Linked DNA regions of Homo sapiens. The protein of the gene in region 1 purifies or fractionates together with the protein of each later gene. This does not show direct contact. Each region holds a gene or a part of one and is shown in the gene's direction. Other genes may lie near its edges.

The links.
Region 2: the proteins of TKT (region 1) and GREB1 purify together in Homo sapiens (affinity purification with mass spectrometry; 2 studies listed by BioGRID and IntAct, with this or other methods). This does not show direct contact.
Region 3: the proteins of TKT (region 1) and TRAPPC8 purify together in Homo sapiens (affinity purification with mass spectrometry; 2 studies listed by BioGRID and IntAct, with this or other methods). This does not show direct contact.
Region 4: the proteins of TKT (region 1) and EIF2AK4 purify together in Homo sapiens (affinity purification with mass spectrometry; 2 studies listed by BioGRID and IntAct, with this or other methods). This does not show direct contact.

Annotation. Positions count from the first base shown.
Region 1 is NC_000003.12:53,239,018-53,246,042, reverse strand, and holds part of TKT (transketolase), read left to right. Parts: intron 1-3,800; coding exon 3,801-3,918; intron 3,919-4,797; coding exon 4,798-4,911; intron 4,912-5,694; coding exon 5,695-5,792; intron 5,793-7,025. UniProt on the Homo sapiens protein: Catalyzes the transfer of a two-carbon ketol group from a ketose donor to an aldose acceptor, via a covalent intermediate with the cofactor thiamine pyrophosphate.
Region 2 is NC_000002.12:11,537,037-11,544,061, forward strand, and holds part of GREB1 (protein GREB1), read left to right. Parts: intron 1-2,782; exon of another isoform or gene 2,783-3,072; intron 3,073-3,568; exon of another isoform or gene 3,569-3,641; intron 3,642-5,649; exon of another isoform or gene 5,650-5,791; intron 5,792-7,025. UniProt on the Homo sapiens protein: May play a role in estrogen-stimulated cell proliferation. Acts as a regulator of hormone-dependent cancer growth in breast and prostate cancers.
Region 3 is NC_000018.10:31,933,115-31,940,139, reverse strand, and holds part of TRAPPC8 (trafficking protein particle complex subunit 8), read left to right. Parts: intron 1-3,688; exon of another isoform or gene 3,689-3,719; coding exon of another isoform or gene 3,720-3,801; intron 3,802-7,025. UniProt on the Homo sapiens protein: Plays a role in endoplasmic reticulum to Golgi apparatus trafficking at a very early stage. Maintains together with TBC1D14 the cycling pool of ATG9 required for initiation of autophagy. Involved in collagen secretion.
Region 4 is NC_000015.10:39,972,099-39,979,123, forward strand, and holds part of EIF2AK4 (eIF-2-alpha kinase GCN2), read left to right. Parts: intron 1-809; coding exon 810-916; intron 917-1,493; coding exon 1,494-1,651; intron 1,652-4,315; coding exon 4,316-4,746; intron 4,747-5,979; coding exon 5,980-6,049; intron 6,050-7,025. UniProt on the Homo sapiens protein: Metabolic-stress sensing protein kinase that phosphorylates the alpha subunit of eukaryotic translation initiation factor 2 (EIF2S1/eIF-2-alpha) in response to low amino acid availability.

The DNA of each region.
Region 1 (7,025 bases):
ACCCACCTCAGCCTCCCAGAGTGCTGGGATTACAGGTGTGAGCCACTGTGCCCGGCCTGTTTGTGTTTCCTGTAGAATGTGTGGAACATGTGAGTACATTTCACTGTATGTTCCTACTGGTGAAGTTGCTGGGAGTTAAGGGATGTGCATCTTCGGCTACTGATCTGGTTTATTTTTAATGCTTGAAAGATTACTTAGGTTCTCTATTTCTTCTTGAGTCAGTTTTGGTAAATTATTTTCATTATTGTTATTATTTTTTAGACAGAGTCTCACTCTGTTGCCCAGGCTGGAGTGCAGTAGCATGATCTCGGCTCATTGCAACCCACGCCTCCGGGGTTCAAGCTATTCTCCTGCCTCAGCCTCCCAAGTAGCTGGGATTATAGGCATGTGCCACCACGCCCGGCTAATTTTTGTATTTTTAGTAGAGACGGGGTTTCACCATGTTGGCCAGGCTGGTCTTTGAGCCGCTGACCTCAGGTGATCTGCCTGCCTTGGCCTCCCAAAGTGCTGGAATTACGGGTGTGAGCTACCGCGCCCAACCTGACATCCATTATCTCTTGAAGGAGCCCATCTGGAGGGTGAGGGAGCCTCTCTGGCCTTTTCTTGCATAGAAACCTGTGAGCAGGTGGAGTGAGCACTAAAGCGATGACAGAGATTCTCCTGGCCAGGGGACATCTGGAAGAATATATATTGTCCTGGAGGGGAGTGGAGAGGGGGCTTTTTTTTTTTTTTTTTTGAGATGGAGTGTTACTCTTGTTGCCAAGGCTGGAGTGCAATGGTGCAATCTTGGCTCACTGCAACCTCTGGCTCCCAGGTTCAAGTGATTCTCCTGCCTCAGCTTCCCGAGTAGCTGGGATTACAGGCGTCCACCACCACACCTGGCTAATTTTTTGGTATTTTTAGTAGAGATGGGGTTTTACCATATTGGCCAGGCTGGTCTTAAACTCCTGACCTCAGGTGATCCGCCTGCCTTGACCTCCCAAAGTGCTGGGATTACAGGTGTGAGCCACTGCCCCCAGCCTGGAGGGGGCTTTAAGAGACTTTCTTTGGGCCTAGCTCTAAGCTTGCCACACCACCGTCACAGGTTGAACTAATTGGGGTTGTAAGTGGACTGTTTTGGTCAAGGCAGGGTGTGTTAGTTTTTTTTTTTTTTTTTTGAACAGTCAAGTGTGCTTGTTAGCCCTGTTTATCACAGAGTCAGGGTATACAGTAAGTACCCTGTAGCCCCTCCACCGTGCTCCTCACCCCATCTCTCGCCAGTGTTCACCCAGAGTTGTCACACACAGCACCACGGGATGGGGCGTCCACCTGCAGTTGTGCAGGCAGTCTGGAATGGCAGGAAAAACTCTGGCCCTGAGGAGGCCACAGGCTTAAATGTATGCCTTTGGCCCCAAAGGCCCGCTAGGAAGTTGAGCTTGAAAGTAACTGTCTCCTGTGTGCTCAGTGCTTTACAGTGTGCAGAGCCCGGTCTCAATCCTTGGTGTATTTCTCCCCTCTTGCCTGCCTGTGGCCAGCAGGAGTGGGTGGTGTCACCATCCCTGCCTGTAGATAAGAGCTGCAGGTGCTGAGAGGGTTGGCAGTGGTGGCGGCTGCTAGAGACCTGGGTACTGTGCATGCTGCGTTATCTCACTGTGTCTCCCAGACACTCTCCCAAGTGAAGAAGCTGAGCCCCGGGTTGACGAAGCACTTGTTGAAGTCACGAAGCCCAAGTGGCACAGCTCACCTCCCCAACCCAGGATGCTCTGCCGAGGGAGAGCCCCAAAAGCTCTGGGGAAGAGTGCGGGGACACCTGGCTCCTAAGCGTTCTTCTTTTGTGCGTGTTTACTTGGTAGAAGTGAAGAGAGTGGCCGCAGCAGGCTGGATGCAGCCTTTGGAAGGAATGAAAGGCTGCAGGCCTAGCAAGGAAGGCTTAAAATCAGCTGCACGTTCTACTTCTCACCCTTGGTCACCTCGCAGCTGACCTTCCTCTCTCCACGTTTACTCTATCTGGGCCTGGGTGTGCTTCTGCCACACACAGAAAGAGCCTGTGCCACACCATTTCTCCCTGGAACCCCTTCTGGTGGCCAATGGGACTGTCACCCCGGGGTGTCGAGGTGGATGGGGCAGGTGGAGCCCTGCACTTACCGTCCTTGTTCTTCCCCGGAACAGTTTGGCCCAGTGTCCACCCACATCCTTCTCCCACCAAGGATCCCTCCTAATGGGACCATGGCTTTAGAAACAGGACCCCTCAGGGCCGGGGCTGCCCTTGGAGGTGGGAAGGACGAGAGGTCAGCCTGAGGTGACCTCCAGTTGAAGCTGGCCCTGGGAGCGTGGGATTAGGGTGGCCTCCAGTTGAAGCTGGCACTGGGAGCGTGGGATTAGGGTCCCTGCCAGGCAGAAAAGGGTTTCTCGTTTACCATGTCCTCCCCTCCCTCTTTCAGGTGTAGTGTCTTTTCCCATGACCGGGAGTTCATAGAAATAGTTAAGTATAAGATGATCGTGTGCGAGAATGTTGGTACTAAACCAGCATGGACAGTTTTCTGGATTTCTCTACTACTAACTTGTCTGCACTGAGCGTGACTCACCCCTAACCTGGTGGGAGCGCTGATTGGAGGGGCGGGAGGCTGGCGGCGTGAGCTCCAGATGGTGCATGTGCCCTTGGGCTTGGCATGCGGCGTGTCTTCGTGTGAAGGACCTCTGGGAGCAGCGAGAGGGCTGAGCTGAGCTGAGCTGAGCTGCATGTGGAGGGGCCCTCCCGGGAGGCCTGTGCCCTGAGGCTGAACTTTTAACAAAACCCTGGGACCAGAGGGCTTCAGGGCTGATCAGGACCTGCAGCGCTTCCTGCTGGGAAGCAGGAAGCAATAGAAAGTTTACGCTTTCTATTGCTCAGGAGCCGCTCAGTGATTAAAACAAGTCTAAAAAGCCAAGGGGACTCCGTGGCCCCACCACTCCCAGGCTGGAAGGCAGGTTCTTGCTTTGTCAGCCCTTCCTCAGCCCTTGTCCATAGGCAGAAGGGGTTTTTATTAATACATGATTGTAGCCTTGTAGGAGATGAGATTATGTGTCTTGCTTTGAAAATTCTACACAAAAGCCTGTTTCCTAGTTGCTACAGCAGCCCTCAAACTGCCCATTTCTAAAGCTTTCAAGTAGCCCAGTGATGCAATTGGAAAGCCCAAGGCCCAGTTTTTCAGGCTACCACACCCCATGCGTGGAGGCTGCTGGGAGGTCTGTGGTAACTCCATGAGCCTCAGTCCCTTCCTCCCTGCCCCATGGGCTCAGAGGCCCAGCACCCCTGGGTGCTGAGAGGGCAGGGTGCCCTTCACAAGTGGGCAGTGTCCGGGCAGTCCTGTCAGGATGTGGGGTCAGTCGTAGGAATGCCGGCACCCCTTGGCTGCTGAGTCCTTAGACTCCTGGGGGCCACTAGGTGGGAACTGGGTTCTACCTGACAGCAGCTGCCCCCAGCCGCAGTGCTAGCCTTGGGCTGAGTCTTCTGTGCTAGATCTCTCCTGGGCCCCTCCTTCCTTCTTACTCAAGTCCAACCCCAGATATTTTCAGTTGCCGTGATTCTGAGGATCTGATGCCCCTGGAAAGGTACAACAGTCCCCAGCACCCACTAGCTGGCCCAGGCCCCAAACTGCCAGGAGTGGCCTTCTTGAGACCATGTGTCACCCTCCCAGGGAACAAGAGCTCGTGGCTGTCTGATAAGCCAGGCCTGTGTGACTCCTCAGGACATGCACCCCCAGGTCCCTGTACAGCTGAGCACAATAGCTCAGGAGTGCAGGGCCATGATGCCTGTGTCTGTCTTCTCTCCTGGGCCACAGCCACCCCACGTCATGCTGCAGCGCCGCAGAGATCATGGCTGTCCTCTTTTTCCACACCATGCGCTACAAGTCCCAGGACCCCCGGAATCCGCACAATGACCGCTTTGTGCTCTCCAAGGTAAGAGCCCAGCTGCCCACTGCCAGCCACACCTTGCCTGGGACTAGGGTCACACGGGCCCTGGAATGGTGAGTGGTCTTTGAGGAGACCTGGCTGGGCCCACCTCTCCCAGGTGCCTTCTCCCTGCTCGTCCTGGCCTCTCCCTCAGTGTCCTGCTCTGTGCTGACCCAGCTGGCTAAGGAATACAGGACTGAATTGATGGGTTGCTCTGCCATGGAGCCCAGGTACATAAACAACGCTTTAACTCAAAGAAATGGAGTAGGGGACTACGGAAACATCTGTTGTGTGTTCTGCCCAGTCTGGGTGTTGACAGGCAGGACTGGCATCTCGGTCTGGGTTGTGGCTCCCTACCTGCTCTATCTGTGTTGTGCCAGCGCTCCCGAGGCCACGGCTTGCCCCCTCGGGGTGGTGGTGTGCTGTAGCAGGGTTTTGGATGGGGACCCCCTGACCCCCCCCTTCTGGGTGGAATCACAGCCACAGATCCCTGAAATCCACCTGTGCTCAGGCCTGCCTCCGTGGCGTTTGGTCTCTCGGGCAGGCTTTAGAGCTTAGAAGTCTGTCCAAGTTGTTCCCATGCCACAAACCAGGGATTAGGGCAGCCGGCTGCCTGCTGGGGTTTTGGCTTCGTCCAGCCTCACAGCTGTGCCCCCTGCACCTGTCTTAGTGCCTGCCTGGCCTTGGCAGTGGGAACTTTGGGCTGAAAACCAAGAGGCTGAAGAGGGCTGAAAGGGGAGAAGTGGCCTTCACTTGCTTCCTCCCCTGAAATGGATGCTGCAGTTGGCCGGCTCGGCCGGGCCCCAGGGGTCAGTGTGAAGTAGGCACAGCCCGAAGTAGAACCGCTCCCCACCTGACCTCACCCCACCATCCATCTCCCGGCAGGGCCATGCAGCTCCCATCCTCTACGCGGTCTGGGCTGAAGCTGGTTTCCTGGCCGAGGCGGAGCTGCTGAACCTGAGGAAGATCAGCTCCGACTTGGACGGGCACCCGGTCCCGGTAAGTGCTCCTGCCAGAGCCTCCCATGCCTCTGCCTCCACTTCCTATTTCCCAGACATGTGGGACGGGGGTAGGGGGTGCCCACTGAGAAGCCAAAGGTGTTGAAAGGCGGAGGAGGGCATTGAGTTGAGGAAGGAAAGAAGCAGGTGTTTTGGGGACACGTATTCAACCCAAGCTGGTGCCAAAGGGGAAGGCCTTCTGAGGCCTCAGCCAGGGTGCTCTGGGATGACTTCAGGGAGGGCCTCTCCCCAAGCTACCCTTCTGCACTGGGCCTCCTTGGCTAGGTAGCTACAGCTTGGGAAGAGAGGGGACTCGATAAGGGAGTGGCTGCAGGATGCTGGCGAAACCCTGGGGAAGGGACCCAGTTTGTTCCTTGGGGTGCCATCTGGCATCCCTGCAAACGTTAAGACTTCATGGATTACCACAAAAACTGTCACATGGTCTGGGTCCCCACGAGGGGCAAATGTTCTGTCAATTTTTTCATGATTCTCTCTCCCAGCACTTTGTGAAGTGGGTGATGTGGGAACTGAGGCTCACAGAGGTTCAGTCCCTTGCCTGAGGCCTGAGGCCACATAGCTGGCTAGTGGGCAGGGCTGGGATTTGAACCTATAATTATAATTAGTTCATTAGGAGAAGAAGTCACATGCTAGGTAGAGGCCATCCTGGGGCCTGACCTTCTGCAGAGGAAGGGCTTGCTGGGCTGGGTGGGAGTGTGGCTCCCTAGGCGGGTGAGACCAGGATCCCTTCTCCTCTCAGATTAACGGTGGCCTTCTGTTATGACAGAAACAAGCTTTCACCGACGTGGCCACTGGCTCCCTGGGCCAGGGCCTCGGGGCCGCTTGTGGGATGGCCTACACCGGCAAATACTTCGACAAGGCCAGGTAACACACCTACTCCCCACCCCCAACCTGGGTAGTTTTGGGGAGTGGTCCTTGGGTGACCCACCCTTCACCATCGCCCCCAGACTCTTCCTCTTTCCTGGCTAGGGCAGAGTAATACATATGCGTGGCCTCTTTTGCTCTTTAAACATCCGCTATGGCTGGTGCCATGACCGGCCCCCTTTACAAATGAGGAAACACTCAGGAGTTAAGGGACCTGCCCTGGGTCCCTCAGCAGTGACTGGCAGGGCCAGGTTTGCACAGAGTGCGTGCTCTCAATCATGTGCTCTTCAGCCAGAGTGCTTAGGCTGAGGACTTCCTGTTTTGCCCCCAGCCCTGTGCCCAGACCCCAGAAGTCTCAGAAAGACCCACCCCCAGGCCCCTGTCTGACTAGGCACCAGGAGCCCAGGCCTGAGCCACTTGCCTTTATCTTGGTAAAGGGGAGGGTTGTATGTTCTGAGGGGTTCTGGGATACCTGTAAGCCACCTCCTATCAGCAGGGAAGAAACAAACATTTGAGAGATTGAGCCTTCAGAGGGTGGGTGATGAGCCTGACCAGAAAGGTGTGCTGCTCTAGCGCCCACCAGGTGATTTGTAGGAACGGCCCCCCAGGAAGGTTCTAGCCATAAGTTTGTCTGCGGTGGTCAGATATGGCCTGGGGGGATGAGGTTGTAAACTGTTAAGAATAATGGCTGGCTGAGGGAAGGATTGCTTGAGGCCAGGAGTTCCAGACCAGCCTAGGCAACAGAGCAAGACTCTCTCTACAAAAAATACAAAACTTAGCCAGGCATGGTGGTACACACCTGTAGTCCCAGCTACATAGGAGGCTGAGGTGGGAGGATCACTTGAGCCTAGGGCTTCAAGATTATAGCTATACATGATTGAGCCACTGCACCCTAGCCTGGGCTACAGAGCGAGACTCTGCCTCTTTAAAAAAAAAATTATTCTTTTTTTTAAAGAATAATCACTGTATTAGTCTGTTTCCACACTGCTGATAAAGGCATACCCAAGTCTGGGGAAGAAAAAGAGGTCTAATGGACTTACAGTTCCACATGGCTAGGGAGGCCTCACAGTCATGCTGGAAGGTAAGGAGGAACAAGTCACATCTTATGTGGAAGGCGCAGGCAAAGAGAGAGTTTGTGCAGGGAAACTCCCGTTTTTAAAACCATCAGATCTTGTGAGACTTATTCACCATCACGAGAACAGCATGGGGAAGACCTGTCCCCATGATTCAGTT
Region 2 (7,025 bases), on another chromosome or scaffold:
ATTGCAACCTCCTCCTCCTGGGTTCAAGAGATTCTCCTGCCTCATCCTCCCAAGTAACTGAGATTACAGGCACCCGCCACCGCGCCTGGCTGATTTTTGCATTTTTTAGTAGACATGGGGTTTCACCATGTTGGCTAGGCTGGGATTGAACTCCTGACCACAGGTGATTTGCCTGCCTTGGCTTCCCAAAGTCCTGGGATAACAGTCGTGAGCCACCGCGCCGGCCGACATTTTCTTTCAGTCCCTTTTACACATTTAATTTATTTATTCACAGGTGGCAAGCTTCATATTGGTAAGAATTGTTACTATTATCCTGGCATGTATAATATTATATATGTGCCAGGTACCATGCTAAGCACCCTATACATACTAATTATTAAATCCACACAACTCTAAGAAGCAAGTACTTTTCTCCCATTTTTCAGTTGGGGAAACTGAGGCACATAAAGGTTAAGTAACTTGCTCAAGGTCTAATATCCAGTAAGTGAAGATTCAAACCCAAACCTGGCTCCAGAGCCCATCATCTTAAAAACTCTACTGCTTAAACTCTCTTCCCTTCTCTAAAAATATAATAAATAGTATATACTATTTTAACATGTTATAAGTTTATATATTATATAAAAATATAAAAATATTTTATATATTATATATTACATAAATATCATATATTAGATAAATATATGATATTTATATAATATATAATAATATATAAATTTTATATATTTATAAATAAAATATACTATTTTAACATAAAATACATACATGTATTTTAATATATATGATCTCATATATAAGAATTTAAAATTATCCGCAGGATCTACCTATCTTTCTATACAGTAAATGTATCTTGCTGAATGTTGTATCCTAAGTGTGTCTGCATCATTGACAAACTCTTCATGCACATAGCTTTTATGCATTTATTGCAGGCTGTGTTAAGTATGCATTTTTTGCTGGGTATTTTGTTAGTTTCCAGTTTCCCACCGTCACACACGGTGCCCTGAGTGGCAGAAGGCACGGGGCACTCCACGTACAGACCGCGTACAGTGTGCCTCCCCAACGAGTAAAGCCCTGGCACTAGGGATGCTTCAGAGCTGCAGATGCTCGCTCGGGCAGAACCTCCAGCGGGTGCCACCCCTGCCTGGCGATGAAGGTGCAGGGATGGGTGGGGTCTCCACTGCCCTTTCTAGGGAGGCACTGCCCAGCCTGGGAACGAAGAAGCCCACCACACAAGTTCTACCCTTTAGCGCCTGGCAATTTTGGGGACTGAGCCCAGGAACAGCTGGGAACTCTCCTCCCTGACTGGGGCACCAAGAGGAGTAATCCACCTCTTTAACCTTTTTTTACAAAAGATAAATGACCTTGAACCCTCTGGGTCATATTCAAGTCACTTTTGCAGGAAGTTAGTGATCCTAGCAAGAAGAGAAAAAGCAAAGTTAAAGGTATTTGCACAATTGGAGTGGGCTCTCATGATTTATTTTCTTTCCTTTTTGAATTAGGATTTGATCAGGAGTCCTGGATTCGTAAGAGTCAATTGCAACAGGGATGTAAAGAGAGCTCTGGACAGGAGCTTGTGTTTCTTTCTTTCTTTCTTTCTTTCTTTCTTTCTTTCTTTCTTTCTTTCTTTCTTTCTTTCTTTCTTTCTTTCTTTCTTTCCTTCCTCCCTCCCTCCCTCCCTTCCTCCCTCCCCCTCTCTCTCACTTTCCCTTCCTTCTTTCCTTCCTTTCTTCCTTCCTTCCTTCCCGTCTTCCTTCCTTCCTTCCCTTCTTTACTTCCTTCCTTCCTCCCTCCCTTCCTCCCTCCCTCCATCCCTTCCTTCCTTCCTCCCTCCGTCCCTCCCTTTTTCCCTCCCTCTCTTTCTTTTCCTTCCTTCCTTCCCCCTCCCCTCCCCTCGTGTCCCCTCCCCTCCCCTCGTGTCCCCTCCCCTCCTCTCCCCTCCCTTCCCCTCCTCTCCTCTCTTCTCCTCCTTTCTCCCTTCTCCTCCCTTCTCTTCTCTTCTCTTCTCTTCTCTTCTCTTCTCTTCTCTTCTCTTCTCTTATGATAGGGTCTCACTTTGTCATCCAGGCTGGAGTGCAGTGGTGCGATCACAGCTCACTGCACCCTCTGCCTCCTGGGCTCAAGCGATCCTCCCACCTGAACCTTCTAAGTAGCTGGGACTTCAGGTGTGCACCACCACAGCCAGTTAATTTTTATTTTTTGTAGAGATGTGGTCTCATTATGTTGCCCAGGCTGGTTTCCCACTCCTGGGCTCAAGCAATCCTCCCATCTCGGCCTCCCACAGTGCTGGGATTACAGGTGTGAACCATTGTGCCCAGCCAATAGCTGGTGTTTTCTTGAAGATTTCCTGGGCCTCTCCAGGGGGTTTTTGTTGTTGGGGCATGTTCCATGGTATTCACAGCAGAGTTGTTTGAAGGGGCACGTGCTCGCTTATGTGGCTTAGGTCCACGCTACCTGTAGTCCTTCGGAGGCAAGCCAGGCTGCCAGCTGACTGTCTTCCACCACAAAGCCTGTGTTCTTCTCCTGACCCTTTGTTCTTTGCACAGCGTACTGTGGCTCCAGTCCAAGTACACAAACTTCCATGTAGTTTAAAAAGAATCAGTTTAACTGTTGGTGGTTAGACAGATTGGTATGTACCTGTGTGGAGAGCACTGTGACCCAGCAAAACACTTCAGGGCTAAGAAGACACGAAACGGTGGCATTTGCCATCTGACCCGGCAGGCGCTGGGGCAGATGAAGCTCCAGTTGGAAGGGCTACTGCTGAATTTTTTTTTTTTTTTTTTTTTTGGTTGTTGTTGTAGCTCTGGGAGCAGATACTAGCTCTGAAACTTTTCCCCTGGCTGGCTTGGCTGCCTCTCCCTGCCGGGCAGGGGCCAGGAAGCCTGGGTGTCAGGCAGACCCGAGCCAGGCTCTGCACAGCAGGGCATTACGCGCCCCACGCATCCTCTTCCATCCCCAGGCACAGATCAAAGGCGCAGCCCAGGAGGCGGGAGCCCCTGCACACTTTCCACCTCTGCTGGGCTTAGCCTCTTGGCTGGTTGGTCTGTGGAGTGCCTGAAGTGACCAGCTTTTTGTAAGGTACGGTTTATTTGACTTTGCAAGCGAGCACCTGCTTTGGGGGTTGGAGAGGTTTGTGTTGACTTACGAAGACAGCTGTGGCCTGTGTTCAGCAGAATAATGGCAAAGCATTGGCCCTTCTAATAAGGTGCAGGGGAGCAGTAAACCGAGACAAGTCCACTTAATGAACGGGTGTCCTTATTTTTATTGTTTGAAATGATATCCAAAGGGATTGCAGATAATTAGTTTGTGTTCTTATGAATGATAGGCTAAGGAGATTCAAAACACTGCTTGGGCCCTGCCTGGTTGGTTCCAGAGAGAAGGTTTTCAGTGGTTTCTGCTTCCCTGGCTTTATTCTGAAGGTCCTTCTCTTCCATTCAGTTCTTACTGCAATCGGAGGGGACATAGCTGATGGCTCTGTAGTTCCATTTGAGAGCACTTAAAGATATTCTCCAAAGAAACACTCTCTGACATTCTGTGCACAGATGTAGAGCAGCTCGGGGCTGAGCTGTGGCTGTGGGCCAGGCAGTCTGAGTTGGAGAGACAAACAAATTAGACACCAGTCGCCTCTCAGCCCAGCTTTTCTCCCTTCAGTAACACCTGTGGAGTTTATGAGTTCCTCTAGGGAAAATCGGAGAAATCTACATGAGAATGATGTCTTGTTTCCTGCTGGGAGGACCGTCAAAGAGTTTATAGGAGACCATCCTGCAGTCTCAATGCGTTTATTGCCGTGTCATATATTGGGGGCTGACTATTGCCACATTACTGGAGCACCCCATTCCCATCCTTCCTCAGCTGTTGAAAGTGAGACAGGTTGAGGACGCAGTCCGGAGAGTGTTGCTTTTTTCAAGTCTTGTTTTCTCAAACTTTGGACTCACCAGAAGTAAGTCACCATGCTTCTGTGTTGGCTGGGGAATTCTTCCAGTTAGAATTTAGTTGTAGGGAAGTTAGAAGAGGAGGGAGCATGGGTCAGTGATGTCTGGAATTTGGGGTGTTCTAGTGAGATTTGGGGTGGGGTCATGTCCCTGTGGCTGGCCAGGGTAGTGGCCCTGAAGGGCCAGGTTGGCAGGGCTTCTAGGAGAAGGCCATCTCCCAGAAGGAGATGGAACCCCAGGTGGGAGGGTATGTGGTGTGTTTTGGATGTGATTCAGAATGGAGGCAGTGAGGCAGAAAGGGAAGGGAAAGGGAGGCCGGGCAGGAAGCCAGGGTTGGGGTTTTGCTCTTATAGACTTGACTCCAGACCATGGCCCTTCCTTCTCTGCCATGGATCCTTCTGGAGGAGAGGGTATCACACCGCTTGAGGCTCTGTGCACAGGCGGGTTCTGTGGGCATCCGCGAGTGAGTGGATGGCAAGTGAGAGGGGGGCCATGGGGATCGGAACACTTGGCATCGTGACCTCTCAGCTCTCTCTTCAGACCCCCATGCACTACTCTTCTCTATGACAGTGAGACCACCACTGCCTCCGACTCTTTCCAAAGCCCGAGGTCAGCTAGGCTCCTCGTGCTACTCACCCTGCACAGAGGCAGTCTTTAGTCCTCTTTGAGTCTTGGTCTATTGCAGTATCCTCCTAGAAGCCTTCCTTAGGAAGCCGCAGGAATCTCAAACACAGCCTCATCAGCCCTGCCTAACTCCTTTGGTGGCTTGACGTGGTTAATTTCAAACACCTTAGCAGGGCTTAGGCTGAACGGGCCCCTCGTTGCCCTCCTACCCCCTGTCCCTGCATACACCTCATGCTGGAAGGACCTGTGTTGCCCAGGCACACAATAGGTGTCTCGCCCTTGGGTCAAGCCGATGCCTTGTATACGTTCTGCCTGGAAAGCCCCTTCTTTTCAGACAGCAAACCTGTACTCAACTTTGATGACTGAGCCTTCCATGAGGCCCGCCAAGACTGACCTGATAGAATTTTCCATTCCCTTCTCTGTTTCCCTCCAGGCCTTCTTGCCCCCATCTCTTCTATTTTGCATTACACTGCTGACCTGCACTTCCTGTGTCTCGGTGAGGTTCTTCAGGGCAGGAACTGTGTCTAGTTCAGTTTCACCCTTAGCAACAAGTGGTAATGAAATATTTCTGCCAAGGATCCAATTCAGATTATGTAAGCATTTACCTTTGTTTAAGGCAAAATCCTGATTCTGGAAGAGGAAAGTTCTTTGCTTCTCACAGGGCAGGCATAGAACAGGCCAGAAGCTGTCCATGTGTGGCTTGGGAGAGACCTGGCTATCTGTACTTGAGCCCTGAGACCCCGAAGGCCCCCGGCTGCATCTGCTCTTGGAGCTTGGGGTGGCCTGGGTGGTGGTCGAGTAGGATCTGCAGCGTGGGATCATCGGCAGAGTCAATGCCATTCCCTTGCAGATCCACTCTCCCGTAAGAAACTGTTCTGGGCTCTGAGAGGAACGAGGGGAAGAGGGGAGATGGGTGAGCTTCCTTGCTGCATTTAGCAACTCAGTCCCTGGGGGAGGTGTAGACACTGACACACTCCCTGTGGCCCCAGGGAGAACAAACCCAGAGCCCAGTGAGGGTGCAGTATGAGCAAAGTGCTGGGGCGGGGGGAGGGCAGAAGAGGGAGCAGTTGATTTTGGCTTAAGAGTAAACTGAAGAGAGAACAGACACGGGGCGGCTGAGCAGCAGTGTGTTCATGGAGAAAGAATCAAAGCGCACATCTTGTACTTTGATGCCCATAGGAAGGGCTCTCCTCTGGCCCCTCTGGCTTTGTTTGGAGCAGAAAACAACAAAGTGAGTTCAGGTAATACCTGGGGCAGTGGGAATTAGCTAATTAGTTTTCTGGAATTCTAACAGCGGTGGCATCCCAGGGGCCTAAATTAAAGCCGCAGATGTGTTTATTTGGTACACCTGGGGCTTTAAATGCTAATCCAAATGCTTTCAGACAGGACCTCAGTCTATTTCTTGACAATCCTCTCTGTAACCTTAAGCATGTGGTCTTCCTTTTCCTCGTCTACTGTCTCTTTTTAGGGGTTGTTTTCTGGGGACCTGCAGTGTTCCGGGCACCATGGGAAGTAAAGAGGTGACTGGAATAGTCCCTGCTGTCAAAGCCCTTCAAGTTTAGTTGGGAAGCTGGCAGAAGGGGGGATAAGAGACTAAATGATATATTATCTGCTCAGAGAGGCACGTTTCAATAGGTGTACTCCTAAGGAAGCCAGAAGTTTAATTAATTCCATTGGATAAACTACTCTGTGATAGTGAATAAAATTAAGGCAAGCTTAAGACTTAAAATTAAGTCTTTAGTTAACATCTAGAAATTAGAATTATGGGCAGTTAATTCCAATTTTAGAGAGGAAACTGGAACTTATTAACATCTATTTTATGCCAACTGCCCTGCATGTTAATTTAGTCCTCACTACAGCCGTGTAAGGTGGTTCTTAGTATCTCCATTTTATAAAAGAGGAAATGGAGGTTCAGAGAAGTTAGGTAACTTGCCCAAGGTCACACAGCTTGAAAGCAGCATAACCATGAATCAAGCCCCTGGTGGTCTTATTGAAAAGTGAATGCTTTTACCACTATAGCAGACAGATTATGAACACTTTGCAAAGCCCAAGTTTGAGAATTTTTTTGACATTGGTGAAGTTCAATGATAATGAGTTTATTATCTCATAACTTGAAGAGACCTGTAAGACCTTCTCTATGAGTCCTGCTGGTTTTGATCTAGCTGGATGTTGCAACTGGGAACCCCAGAGCGCTGTGTTCTCAGCACCTCGTGGGCCTCGGTGTCCATGTTCGTGTGCAGGGGTGTTGAACCCCTGATGTGTGCTGCTGGGTGGTGTGAAGAAATGGGTATTGACGCCCGTCTGTGAATGGACCGGGGAGTGGGGAGGAGTTGGGTCTGAAGGGTAGGCAGTACACGGAAGCTGTGGCTTTATTTTTCTGAGCAAAATGATGAGTGTACAGCACCCAGGAGCACCCAGAGCCAAGTGTTATCTTAGGAAGTGAGTTCCAGCCCATTCTGGGACTCAGCGCTGTTG
Region 3 (7,025 bases), on another chromosome or scaffold:
TTTCAATGTGTAATCAATGTGAAAAATATTCATGAGATATTTTACATTCTTTTTTATTGCTTAGTCTTTGAAATTTGGTGTGCCTTTTATACTTAACATCTCAATTTGTACTAGTCACATTTCAAGTACTCAGTAGCCATATGCAGCTGTTGCCTACTGTATTGGACAGTGCTGTGATAGCGGCTCATTGTCAGTACACTTCTGATTTCCTTCAGGAGACTGGGGAAGATTAGGGAAGGAGTTTTTTTGTTTGTTTGTTTTTTGTTTTGAGACAAGGTCTTGCTCTGTTACCCACGCTGGGAGGGCTGGAGTGCAATTGTATCACCATAGCTCCCTCACCCACTGCAGCCTCAACTTCCCAGGTTCTAGCTATCCTCTTGTCTCAGCCTCCCAAGTAGCTGGGACTACAGGCACATGCCATCATGCCTGGCTAATTTTTAAATTTTTTGTAGAGATGGGGTTTCTCCTTGTTGCCCAGGCTCGTCTCGGACCACTGCGTCCAGCCTAGTGAAGGAGTATAATGAGTTGGACGTTAGTGGACAGGTAGACAGTTGGTAGAAAGCAAGAGGGCAGTCATTCCCTATGAAGGAGTGGTATGAGGTTATAATGGTATGGGCAAAAGGTCTAAATTATGACTGAATGGTTGGGAAACAGGGAGGAAACTCTTACTGGGGTACAGAGTAGTAAGAGGATGCTTAGATAAAGGGAGGACCTTGAATTCTAGGAAAGGGATTTGCGATTTTATGTCTAATGGTAAATGTGAGTAGATTCTTGAGGGTCTGAAACATTTGGACATTAATGAGTTGAAAGTTTTGGAGATTAGTGAGTTGTGTGGTTTATAAGGATAGATATAAGTAGATACAAGTTTTACATTTCAAGATGAACATGGACTATGATAGTAGCATTAGAAATTTGGCAAAGAGGACTTAATTTTTCTTGGTTTTAGTTTTTTGCTGGTATAAATACATTTTAGAATTCTTTACCACCTAGAACAGCTACTTTTTGTTTCAAGTGTGGGGATTCTTCAAAGACAGCTTTTTTTTTTTTTTTTTTTTTTGAGACGGAGTCTCGCTCTGTCACCAGGCTGGAGTGCAGCGGCGAGATAGATCTTGGCTCACTGCAAGCTCCGCCTCCCGGGTTCAAGTGATTCTCCTGCCTCAGCCTCCCGAGTAGCTGGGACTACAGGCTCGTGCCACCATGCTCAGCTAATTTTTCTATTTTTGGTAGAGATGGGGTTTCACCATGTTGGCCAGGATTGTCTCTATCTCTTGACCTCATGATCTGCCCGCCTTGGCCTCCCAAAGTGCTGGGATTACAGGCATGAGCCACTGAGCTAGGCAACAGCTTTTCTTTAGCAAGTGAGGCATGAGAATATAATTTCAGGCAATGTAATTTAAGAATACAACTGACTAAAACCAGCTAACATTTCCTTAGAGGGAGAAAAAATATGTTAAAAAAGAAGACTCAATTTCTGGCCTGTAGGTATGCCTTTACTTAGGGTAGAACTTTGCCTTGACTGCTGAGTTTTCAAGGAGTGTCAAGTACAGTGCCAAGTATTGTCAGGAGACTTATTTTTAGATTTTAGTAGAAAACACTTGGTTTAAAGCTATACCAAAGAGAGGGTTGGTAGAAGAGATTTGAGTACTATTTGTGTGTAGGGCCTTCAAAATACAGTTTAGACTTGATGTATTACACAACGGAGAGCCATTTTAGGTTCCTTAGAGACATTTTAAAACCTGAAGAGTATTAAATTATGTTAAAATTAAATTATATTAAAATATATAATTAAATTTATTATATGTATTTTCTGTGATTGTTATGCTTGATGTATGTTTGAGAGTTAATGTAGTCATTGTTTGACACAAATTTTGAGATCCTAATACTCAAAGAATTTCCACTGGCCATGTTTCAAAGAGTCGTGGTATTAATATTAATTAATCAAGCAAACAACAAAAAATTAAAATTAAGCCTTGTTTTTGCTTAGTGATAGTTCTTTGATAGTTCTAAACAATGTTGCAATATATCATTTAGATGTTCTGTAAGTTTTAAGAAAATTTCACTTAAACACTAACTTGGAAGTATGTGGGTTATATATTATTTTATTTTGAAATTAAGGTTACTAAAGGGATTAAAAAGTAGGCCAGGTGCAGTGTCTTAGGCCTGTAATCTCAGCACTTTGGGAGGCTGAGTTGGATGATAACCTGAGGTCAGGAGTTTGAGACCAGCGTGGCTAACGTGGCGAAACCCCATCTCTACTGAAAGTACAAAATTAGCCTGGTGTGGTGGTGGGCGCTTGTAGTCCCAGCTGCTCGGGAGGCTGAGGCAGGAGAATCACTTGAACTCGAGAGGTGAAGGTTGCAGTGAGCCAAGATTTTGCCACTGTACTCCAGCCTGGGTGACAGAGCGAGACTCTGTCTCAAAAAAACAACAAAAAAAAGTAGACTAGGATATAACTTTTGAAGGCTATTTAATATCTCCAGTTTTCTTAAATTTCTTTTTCTTTTCTTTTTGAATTCTTGAAAAACATTGTGTGATCCTTGTGCAGGAGCTATGCTAATCTTCTCTGTATCATTCCAATTTTAGTATATGTGCTGCTGAAGTGAGCAGTTTTTTTTTTGAGACAGAGCCTCACTCTGTTGCCCAGGCTGGTCTTGAACTCCGTGGCTCACTATAGCCTCAACCTTCTGGCTCAAAATATCCTCCCTCATCAGCCTCACCAGTAGCTGGGGTTATGGGCATGTACCACCACACCTGGCTAATTTTTGTAGTTTTTGTAGAAATGGGGTTTTGCCATGCTGCCCAGCCGGTCTCAAACTCATGGACTCAAGCAATTTACCCGCTTTGGATTCCCAAAGTGCTTTGATTACAGGCGCGAGCCACTGCGACCGGCCTTAAATTTCTTTCCTTTTCCTTTATTTTTATTTTTTGAGACGGAGTCTCGCTCTGTCACCCAGGCTGGAGTGCAGTGGTGCGTCTCAGCTCACTGCAAGCTCCGCCTCCTGGGTTCACTCCATTCTCCTGCCTCAGACTCCTGAGTAGCTGGGACTATAGGCGCCCACCACCACGCCTGGCTAATTTTTTGTGTTTTTTTAGTAGAGACGGGATTTCACCATGTTAGCCAGGATGGTCTTGATCTCCTGACCTCGTGATCCACCCGCCTTGGCCTCCCAAAGTGTTGGGATTACAGGCGTGAGCCACCGCGCCTGGCTCCTTTTTTTTTTTTTTTTTTTTTTTTTTAAAGACGGAGTCTTGCTCTGTCACCCAGACTGCAGTGCCGTCGCACAATCTTAGCTCACTGCAACCTCCGCCTCCCAGGTTCAAGCAATTCTCCTGCCTCAGCCTCCTAAGTAGCTGGCATTACAGGCACGGGCCACCACTCCTGGCTAATTTTCGTGTTGTTAGTAGAGACAGGGTTTTGCTATGTTGGCCAGGCTAGTCTCGAACTCCCGACCTCAAGTGATCCACCCGCCTTCGGCCTCCCAAAGTGCTGGATTACAGGCATGAGCCACTGCGTCTGGCCTCTTAAATTTCTTTTAGTTGGAAATATTTCATCAATCTTAACTACCATGTTTATATAATGAAGTAATTAATCTCCAAGGTGTGGAAGTACCAAACTCTGAATAAAATTCAAGTCAGTTTTTCGAAATTTGTTTTCATTTTGTTTTATTAATTTTTCGAGACAGGGTCTCACTTTGTCACCTAGGCTGGATACAGGGGGCATGATCATGGTTCACTGCAGCCTCGACCTCCTGGGCTCAAGCGATCATTCCACATTGGCCTCCTGGGTAGCTGGGATTACAGGTTTGCATCACACATTTGGCTAATTAAAAAAAAAATTTTTTTTGTAGAGATGGGGTTTTGCTGTGTTTCCCAGGCTGTTCTTGAACTCTTGGACTCAAGCGATCTGCCAGCCTCGGCCTCCCAAAGTGCCTAGATTACAGGCTTGAGCCACTACACCCAGCCAGAGGGTTTTTTAATATGGTAAAGTTTTATATGTATAAAGTATACAAGATCCTCCTACCTTAGCCTCCTGAGTAGCACACAGGTGTGTGCCATCACACCCAGCTAATTAAAAAAAATTTTTTTATAGAGATGGGGTCTTGTGCCAGGTGTGGTGGCTCACGCCTGTAATCCCAGCACTTTGGGAGGCCGAGGTGGGTGGATCATGAGGTCAAGAGTTTGAGACCGGCGTGGCCAACATGGCGAAACCTCGTCTCTACTAAAAAAACACAAAAAATTAGCCGGGTGTGGTGGCGGGCGCCTGTAATCCCAGCTACTCGGGAGGCTGAGGCAGGGGAATTGCTTGAACCTGGGAGGCGGAGGTTGCAGTGAGTTGAAATCATGCAATTGCACTCCAGCCTGGGTGACGGAGCGAGACTCTGTCTCAAAAAAAAAAAAAGAAATGGGGTCTCTCTCCCTCTGTTGTCCAGGCTGGTCTTGAATTCCTGGGTGCAAGTGATCCTCCTGCTTTAGCCTCCTAAAATGCTGAGATTACAGGCTTGAGGCACTCACTGGGTGCAGTGGGTCCAGTGGCTCAAGCCTATAATCGCAGGCTTGTTCATAAAGCCTGCTTTTTTTTTTTTTTTTTTTTAAGATGGAGTTTCGCTCTTGTTGCCCAGGCTGGAGTGCAATGGCACGATCTTGGCTCACCGCAACCTCCACCTCCCAGGTTCAAGCAGTTCTGCCTCAGCCTGCCGAGTAGCTGGCTTGAGCCACTGGGTGCAGCGGCTCCAGCCTGTAATTGCAGACTTATTTATAAAGCCTGTTTTTTTTTTGGTTTGTTTGTTTGTTTGTTTTTGAGGTGGAGTTTCGCTCTTGTTGCCCAGGCTGGAGTGCAGTGGCGCAATCTCGGCTCACTGCAACCTCCACTTCCAAGGTTCAAGCAATTCTGCCTCAGCCTCCCTGGTAGCTGGGATTACAGGCATGCGCCACCACGCCTGGCTAATTTTGTATTTTTAGTAGAGACGGGGTTTCTCTATGTTGGTCAGGCTGGTTTTGAACTCCCAACCTCAGGTGATCCGCCCGCCAAGGCCTCTCAAAGTGTTGGGATTACAGGCATGAGCCATCACGCCCGGCCTAGCCTGTTTTCTTTGTACAGTTTTATATGCTGGGTAAAAGCATAAAAGATGTCATTATTTTCAAAATACATTTTATTTATTTATTTATTTATTTATTTATTTATTTATTTATGAGACGGAGCCTCTCTCTGTTGCCCAGCAGGCTGGAGTGCAGTAGTGTGATCTCAGCTCTCATTGCCCAGGCTGGAGTGCAGTAGTGTGATCTCAGCTCTCATTGCCCAGGCTGGAGTACAATGGTGTGGTCTCGGCTCAGTGCAACCTCTGCCTCCCGGGTTCAAGCGATTCTCCTGCCTCAGCCTCCAGAGTAGCTGGGATTACAGGCACGTGCCACCATGCCCGGCTAATTTTGTATTTTTAGTAGAGACGGGGTTTCACCACGTTGGCCAGGCTGGTCTTGAACTCCTGACCTCTGGTGATCCGCCCGCCTTGACCTACCAAAGTGCTGGGATTACAGGTGTGAGCCACTGCGCCCAGCTATGAAGCAACTTTAAGGAAAATACTTGTCCAATATGTTCCTAAGGATATCAGAAATGCACCATAGTTTTTTTGTTTGTTTGTTTGTTTCTCTGCTGCATAATTAGACTGACTGGGAAGTTTAGGGAGAGAGGCTGGTATGTTTATTTAAGTTAGAAAACATAACAGTTATAGAAGAATGCAGATAATACAAGAAACATCCACCTCCCCACTACCCAGAACTAACAAATATTAACCCTCCATCATATTTGCTTTTTATCTTTTCTTTTAAAAAAAAAATCAAACGTTATAGGACAGACTTCCCAGGTTGAAGTTTTCTTTCTACCTTATCTTAGTCTCTTTTCTTTCCTTCCTTTTATAGGCAACCACTATCATAGAATTTGCATGTACCATTTTTTTTTTTTGAAAGGGAGTCTCTGTCGCCCAGGCTGGAGTGCAGTGGCGCAATCTTGGCTCACTGCAACTTCTGCCTCCTGGTTTCAAGTGATTCTCTTGCCTCAGCCTTCCAAATAGCTGGGAATACAGGCGCTTGCCACCATGCCTGGCTAATTTTTGTATTTTAGTAGAGATGGGGGTTTCACCTTGTTGGCCAGGCTGGTCTCGAACTCCTGACCTCAAGTGTTCCGCCCGCTTCAGCCTCCCAAAAGTGCTGGGATTACAACAGTGAGACACCATGCCCGGCTGCATGTATACTTTTTGTGTATCTATATTTATGTTTACAATATAAATACACATTTGTACCACATACAGTATTTTAAAAACGTTTTTGAGTCTTTTTTTTTAGTAAAAAATGTTAGAAATCAATAGAACACATAGGAAATGTAGAAAAGTTTGTATGCATATAACTTTATTTAAAATATACGCAGGCCTTGATTTTGGTATAAGGCATTTTCCATTGAGAAGAATGTGTCATTCTTTATTTGTAGGTACCCAGACCACTTTCCCAAAGTTGCCTCTTATTTGTATGTGATAATAACCCATGGTGCAGGTGAAATAGGTGATGTTGTATCTGCTGCTGCTGCTATACCGCCTTCATTATGTATTGTTGAGCATGGTGCTCAGTGCTTTGCAATTACTGTCTAACAATAGTTCACCTAAATCACTAAAATGATCCCGTGAAGTAGATAGTAATCACATGTGCAGATGAAGAATTTGAAGCACAGAAGGGTTAAGTTGTTCAGGGTAACCCAGTTGATAAGTAATGGGTTGGGATTTAAATCAAGGTCCAACTCCAAAAGCTGGGTCCTCAATCATTATAATGGACTCCTTTTTTTTTTTTTTTTTTTTGAGACGGAGTCTCGCTCTGTTGCCCAGGCTGGAGTGCAGTGGCACGATCTCAGCTCACTGCCAGCTCCGCCCGCCGGGTTCACACCATTCTCCTGCTTCAGCCTCCCAAGTAGCTGGGACTATAGGTGCCCACCACCACGCCCGGCTAATTTTTTATGTTTTTAGTAGAGACAGGGTTTCACCGTG
Region 4 (7,025 bases), on another chromosome or scaffold:
CTGTAATCCCAGCACTTTGGGAGGCCGAGACAGGCAGATTGTTTGAGCTCAGGAGTTGGAGACCAGCCTGGGCAGTGTGGTGAAACCCTATCTCTACAAAAAATATAAAAATTAGCCAGGCCTGGTGGTGCCTGCCTGTAGTCCCAGCTACTGAGATGGGAGGATTGCTTGAGCCCGGGAGGCAGAAGTTGGAATGAGCTGAGATCACACCACTGCACTGCAGCCTGGGCGATACGGCAAGACCCTATTTCAAAAAAAAAAAAAAAGCATAAACCAATTTTTAAAAAAAGTATGCAATAGAATATGGGACTTTAAAAAAGCCTTCCCTAAATGTTTCCAACTTGCTTCATCCTGTAATGAGCAGGCTTCATCTAAAGCTCGTCATACTGAGCCACTCTGCTGCACCAACTCTCTGATTTGCTTTGTCTTTCGAAAGCTTTATTTATAACCGGTTCCTGCAAAGGCTTAGTTTGGCATGACAAGGCATTAAACTGTTCATCGAGGTGAAAATTTATAGCCTACTTGTGCTACCTTAGACTTTTAAAAAATTGTTCCATGAGGGTAAGTCTTCTCATCTAGAGATGCCTTTTTTTGATTCGCCTCTTGTACCCAGCCTGTCGCATAGCATGTAAATCCTGCAGGAATGTTTATTAATTTAAATTCACCTATGAGAGTACATTCTGGTCTTTGAGTAACATGAATTCTATAATGTGTATCTTTAAAAAATAAACCCATAGTTAATGCCTTGGATTAACTAGTTTAGCACTGATTGTTTGTGATGCTAAGATTCTTCCTTCCCTCTCACCGAGATGTGTGTGCTTGGATGACAAGGAAAGATGGAGTCCCCAGCAGTTGTTGAAACACAGCTTTATAAATCCCCAGCCAAAAATGCCTCTAGTGGAACAAAGTCCTGAAGGTGAGTCTGTTACCTTTCTTTATTTGGTAACCTGTTTGACATTAAATTATTTTGAAAGTATACATAAACCAAAAACTGGAAGGGGCTGCATGTGTTATTTTATGTCTTTTATTCTGAACTAAATCCATTAGTTTGATGTGTGCCATGTGCATGGGACTGTTTTGCCACCCTGATTTTTCTAGTCTCTATTGATGGAATGAATGTCCATTGCTGTAGTCTCTTGTAGTGTTTAGTCACCCATAGTGCCATGTAACTAGATTTTTCCTGCTGCACCTGAGATTAAGGAACCTCGGTAGAGATTGGGATGGATCATGAGACCTGAGTTTTGGTTCTAGCTCTATAGTTAAGTCACTTATTCTATATAATCCCCCACCTGTAAACTTGGGCTAATTATATATTTCTGCCTACTTTAAGGAGGGCAAGGTGAGGAAAAGTTTTAAAAGGCCACTCAGGTAAGAGGTAATTTTTCAAACTACTGGTTGGAGCTCTTCTTCCAGGGCTTCCATCATTGTTGGCTATGTAGCTCTTCCTAAATTTCCAATGCCTCATGTGCCTCTTACTCCCTGTTTTATCTCAGATTCTGAAGGACAAGATTATGTTGAGACTGTTATTCCTAGCAACCGGCTACCCAGTGCTGCCTTCTTTAGTGAGACACAGAGACAGTTTTCCCGATACTTCATTGAGTTTGAAGAATTACAACTTCTTGGTAAAGGAGCTTTTGGAGCTGTCATCAAGGTGTGGTACAGAGTCATTCCCAGTCCCCTTTAGAGCTCCTTCTCTGTTCCATTTCCACAAAGACTCATGGACTTTACTTTTATTTTGGGAGTGGGGAGGGAAGTGAATATGGCTGTTGGATACTATGCTCATCCTCACCTTCCTGGAGTTAAAGGTTTTATTTAAGTTACGCTGGACACAGTTGAGAATTGTCCCACTCCTCTTTCCTTGCTTCATGTGGAGCATTAACATGAAACACACATGGTTATAACAGCACTTCAAGTGGAATCAAGACCTCCACAGAAAGAACATTTTTGTGTGCTTTGGTTCAGAAAGAACATTGTTCTTTTTTTCTCCTGTTTGCTGTTAGAGTTGCTGTAGATAAAAAGGTTCTAAGGTTAGAAGAGAGATGGACTTCAAACTGGGAGATGGCCCCAGCAGGTCTCGATGGCTTTTATTTTCCAGCTATTATTGGGACAGGAAAGTAGCGATGTATTATTAAGGTACACTGTTGTTGGGTCTTCCTTTCTTCGTTCTAGTCTATTTGGGTGACTTTTATTATTATCTGCCCCTTGTAGAAAGAGGTTTCAGCTGTTTTTATATAATAGAAGTATTTCTTTGTAAATTAGGAGACCCAGATTATTGTATTAAGTCCATATACAGTACATGTCATCTTTCACATATGAAGGTAACCCACCATCAACTGAGTATATTGTCTGTTAAGGATTCTGAGAGTATCATTAGGAAGCATTACTGTTACTGTAGAAAAACTTTTACACTAAAAAAGGAATTAAATTAGTTTTCCTGTGGTAAAAGACAGACAAGCAAGACAGATGTCCTGATCAGAAAGATCATAATTATGTCTAAGAGGAGGGGATGATTGAAGCGTATACTGTCCCTTTAACACAATATCATTTTGATCAAATCCTTTAACTTCATTCTATTTTAAATTCTTGAACGTAGAATAGTAACAAATTTCATCTCTTTACAAGTACTTAATAATGATAGGCAAGCTCATATAACAAAAACATCTGAGTAACTTAAGCCCCCACGGTTTCCAGTAGTTTCTCCCTGTGAGAATCCACAGCCCTCACCTCCTACCTCTGTGCTTCTGTGTCAGAGTAGGGCAGCCTGCCCAGTGATCTGGCATTCATTAGCAGTTGGACCCATTACTGTTTCTGCACCTTTTCACTTCAGTAAATGAATTCCTAGGGGTTTCCAGTATAGCAAGCTTTACTCCCAACCCAGTTCGTATATGATGTGTACTGAGACAGGAGATCGAAAGGCAATGCCAAGATCCCCACCTCCCGCCCTACACTGTCCTCTTCCCTATTAATGTGGCAGTAAAAGAACACAGGGCTATCATTTTTTGGAGCACCTGCCATATTTCAGATTGTGTGCCAGGTGATTTACAAACCTTGTCTTTAAATCTCAGGACATTCTTACGAGATGGGTATGATCCTCATTCCCTAGATGAGGGAACTGAAGCTCAGAGAAGGTTATGTCCTTTGCCTGAGATAAGGGAGATAAAACCAGCATTCAGACCCACCTCTGTTGTACTACAAAGTGTGTGTTCTTGTCACTATTTCCATACAAAAAAAGATAATCTGAAACTCAATTTTGTAGTACTTCCTTCTTATTCCCAGGACTTCACTTAGACTTTTATTAGTTTAATTGAAACTTGTGAGCCAAACAAGAGAATGATATTCTGTTTTGTGTTTTGTAATCAACTAATTTCTCCTGCCACCCATGGCCACATGGCATTTGCTTTTCTAGAGTATATCATCACCTCAGTTGACCTGCACGGATGTGACTACAAGGTTTCAGTGAATAAGACTCTGTAAAAGTTACTTCAGTCACCCCAATTACATAGTGAAACTGCCTGGCATAAGGATGCCTCTATGTAGGATGGGAGGACTTGCCTTTGCAACGTTTTCTTGCTTTCTTATTATTTTACTGTGTTGTTAATTGTATTGTTCTGGTTTCAGTATACATCATCTTAGGTATATAACAAAATCAATGGGCAGTGATTGTGTTAATAGCAATTGCTGTTATTGACTAAGCTAAGCACCTTTCTCTGTGAGGCCTTGATACAAGTGCTTTACAGTCACCATTTGGGGTAGTGGAAATGGTATAAATGCCATTTTAAAGATAAGAAAATTGAGTCTCAAGGAAATTAAGTAATTTTCCCAAGTTCACACGGCTTTAGAAATCAAGGAATTAACCTTTGTGTTCAGGTCTGTTAATATTTTTGGTGTTTAATTTGTTTTTAGTGACTTTAAGTGTAAAAAAAAATCAGAGAGAAACTAAAATCATCTGAAACTTTACACTGACTTTAGAAAATAATTTTTAATCTTAAAATCAAGACACTTAGAAATTTAGATAGCAGATACATTGGAAAAGCAGGGAGGTAACTGTCAGTAAAATTAATTATTAAAATGGAGATTATGTTTTCCCCAGGGTCTCCCAGCAAGCTAAATATATCTAGAGTCGGGTGGGCTGTTTTCTGAATTTTGTGGCAGTCAAAGCTTTCTTCAGTTTAAGAATTTCAGGCATGTGGTTCTTGACTGTAGCTGTGGGACTCATTTAGAACTTCACGCTTTCCTTGGGAGGGGATGGGGTGCGGTGCAAATGCCTGTTTGTGCAAGGCTCCGAGCGGCTGACCTTCCCCTGGCTGTGCCGCAGGTGCAGAACAAGTTGGACGGCTGCTGCTACGCAGTGAAGCGCATCCCCATCAACCCGGCCAGCCGGCAGTTCCGCAGGATCAAGGGCGAAGTGACACTGCTGTCACGGCTGCACCATGAGAACATTGTGCGCTACTACAACGCCTGGATCGAGCGGCACGAGCGGCCGGCGGGACCGGGGACGCCGCCCCCGGACTCCGGGCCCCTGGCCAAGGATGACCGAGCTGCACGCGGGCAGCCGGCGAGCGACACAGACGGCCTGGACAGCGTAGAGGCCGCCGCGCCGCCACCCATCCTCAGCAGCTCGGTGGAGTGGAGCACTTCGGGCGAGCGCTCGGCCAGTGCCCGTTTCCCCGCCACCGGCCCGGGCTCCAGCGATGACGAGGACGACGACGAGGACGAGCACGGTGGCGTCTTCTCCCAGTCCTTCCTGTAAGCGCACGGCGCGGACCAGCTGCCTCTGATGCGCCCCCTAGTTTCCTTTCTTTATTTTTTTTTCCTTTTTCCTTTCATTTCCTTCCTTCCTTCTTTCCTTCTTTTCTTTCTTTCCTTTTTTGAGATAGGGTCTTGCTCTGTCACCCAGGCTGGAGGTCAGTGGCGCGTCCTTGGCTGCAACATCCGCCTCCCGGGCCAGCGAATGCCCCCCAACATTAATCCCCACCAAGTCCAAGCCAGGGAAAAGGGGATTCATTTAGAAATCCAGACGTGTTGACCATGTTTAAAAACAAAAACAAAAACAAAACAAAACCACCACTTTTAGAGAGTAACCAAATGCAATCTAAAGGAGCGGTCCCCAGCGTTTTTAGGCACCAGGGACTGGTTTCATAGAAGACAATTTTTCCACAGACGGGTGTTAGGGAAATAGTTTCGGGATGAAACTGTTCCACCTTACATCATCAGGCATTAGAGTCTCATAATGACTGCTGAAAAAGCGCACAACCTGGATCCCTCGTGTGCACAGTTCACAATAGTGTTTGCGCTCCTATGAGAATCTAATGCGGCTGCTGATCTGACAGGAGGTGGAGCTCAGGCCTTAATGCTTGCTCACCTCCGGCTGTGCGGCCCTAACAGGCAGTGGACCTGTACCTGTCCATGGCCTGGAGGTTTGGGACCCCTAATCTAAAGGATTTTTTTTCCCGCTATTTTCAAAAGATCTCCAAAATCCAAGCCATGGAAAAAGGAAAATTCAATACCTCATCTTATACATTGAATAGAATTTCTCATAGGACATTCCTTTGGATAAGGGCTTGCAACCCTGTGAAACATTTAAGAACTAATTTGGAGTCTTGATACAGTGCCAACTGCAGCCCCCAAAGGTACCAAACCAATAATTATGATCCTAAATTTTATGCTTCTCAGAATCCACCCTGGATGTTTACTTTCATGATTTTGTTTTATTTTATCCAAGTGGATACAGTTTATGATTACTCTTCACTATTAAATTTTTTGAGGAAACTTAATCTGGCTAATTTTTATTAAATCAAGGGTTCTGTGTTTTGCATAATAGCAAGTACAAATCAGCACAGTGTAGAGTATACATTGATGCCTGTGGGCTCATGGTGTGATGTCTGTAGCCTCTTGTGCTTTCTAGTATTTAAAAATGTCCATGTTTATAATGATAATAGGGATTTCTGTTCCTTTAGTATTTCTGTTTCCCTTTTTCAGGCCTGCTTCAGATTCTGAAAGTGATATTATCTTTGACAATGAAGATGAGAACAGTAAAAGTCAGAATCAGGTATATATATGAATAGAAATTATATCATTTTATTCGTGATATAATTGACGTCTGATGTCATAAACCTTAGGTAAAGTATTAAGGCTTTAATCTGATATTCAGATATAGAAACCATAAATTTTAAAAGATGATTATTCATTTAAAATATATTCTACCTGTGTTTATTTATAGACCTTCTTTATTTATCCACATAGTAAAACATACCTCCTTTTAGAAGAGAGGAGTCAGTTGAGACACTGCATTTTTGTATGTGATGAAAACAGTTTTCTAAGGGTTTGGGAAACTTTATATGGTTGGGGATAAGAATTGAATGCAAATTAATGAACTAGATTTGCATTTATGGAGTTACCTCATCATGGAGTTACCTTGGTCTGTCCCACGTCAATTAATCTTGATTCCTTATTTTCATAGACCATCCTCTAGAACAGTGTTTTCACACTGTGTATCGTGATCCTATAATGCAGGGGTGTCCAAGCTTTTGTCTTCCCTTGGCTACACTGGTAGAAGAATTGTCTTGGGCCACACATAAAATATACTAACACTAATGATAGCTGATAAGCTAAACAAACAAAAAAATCACAAAAAATCTCATAATTTTTTTTTGAGATTGTGCTGTTTTTTTAGTTGTGTTTTCAATGGAGAAATACATCATCTGTTGACAAAATAGCTTTTGAAAAATACGAGTACAGATACTATAAAACAAAGCAAACTTCAGTCGTGAGACACTACATACATCATGTGAAAGCAACAGTCTGATCTCCAGGTTGTGAAAACTATAATTAAAAAGTCACTACACAGAAAAGATCCAAGTTTCCAGGTTGGCAAAACTTCGGTGCAGTTACATGAAACGTTTAACAAACTGATTTGTTTTCCCCAATGTGTAAACAAAATGACAAGACTAAGTCTGTGCCTGGTAATTTCAATGTAACTCTGAAGCTACACAAAACACACAGACACCTTATACACTTCACCTGTT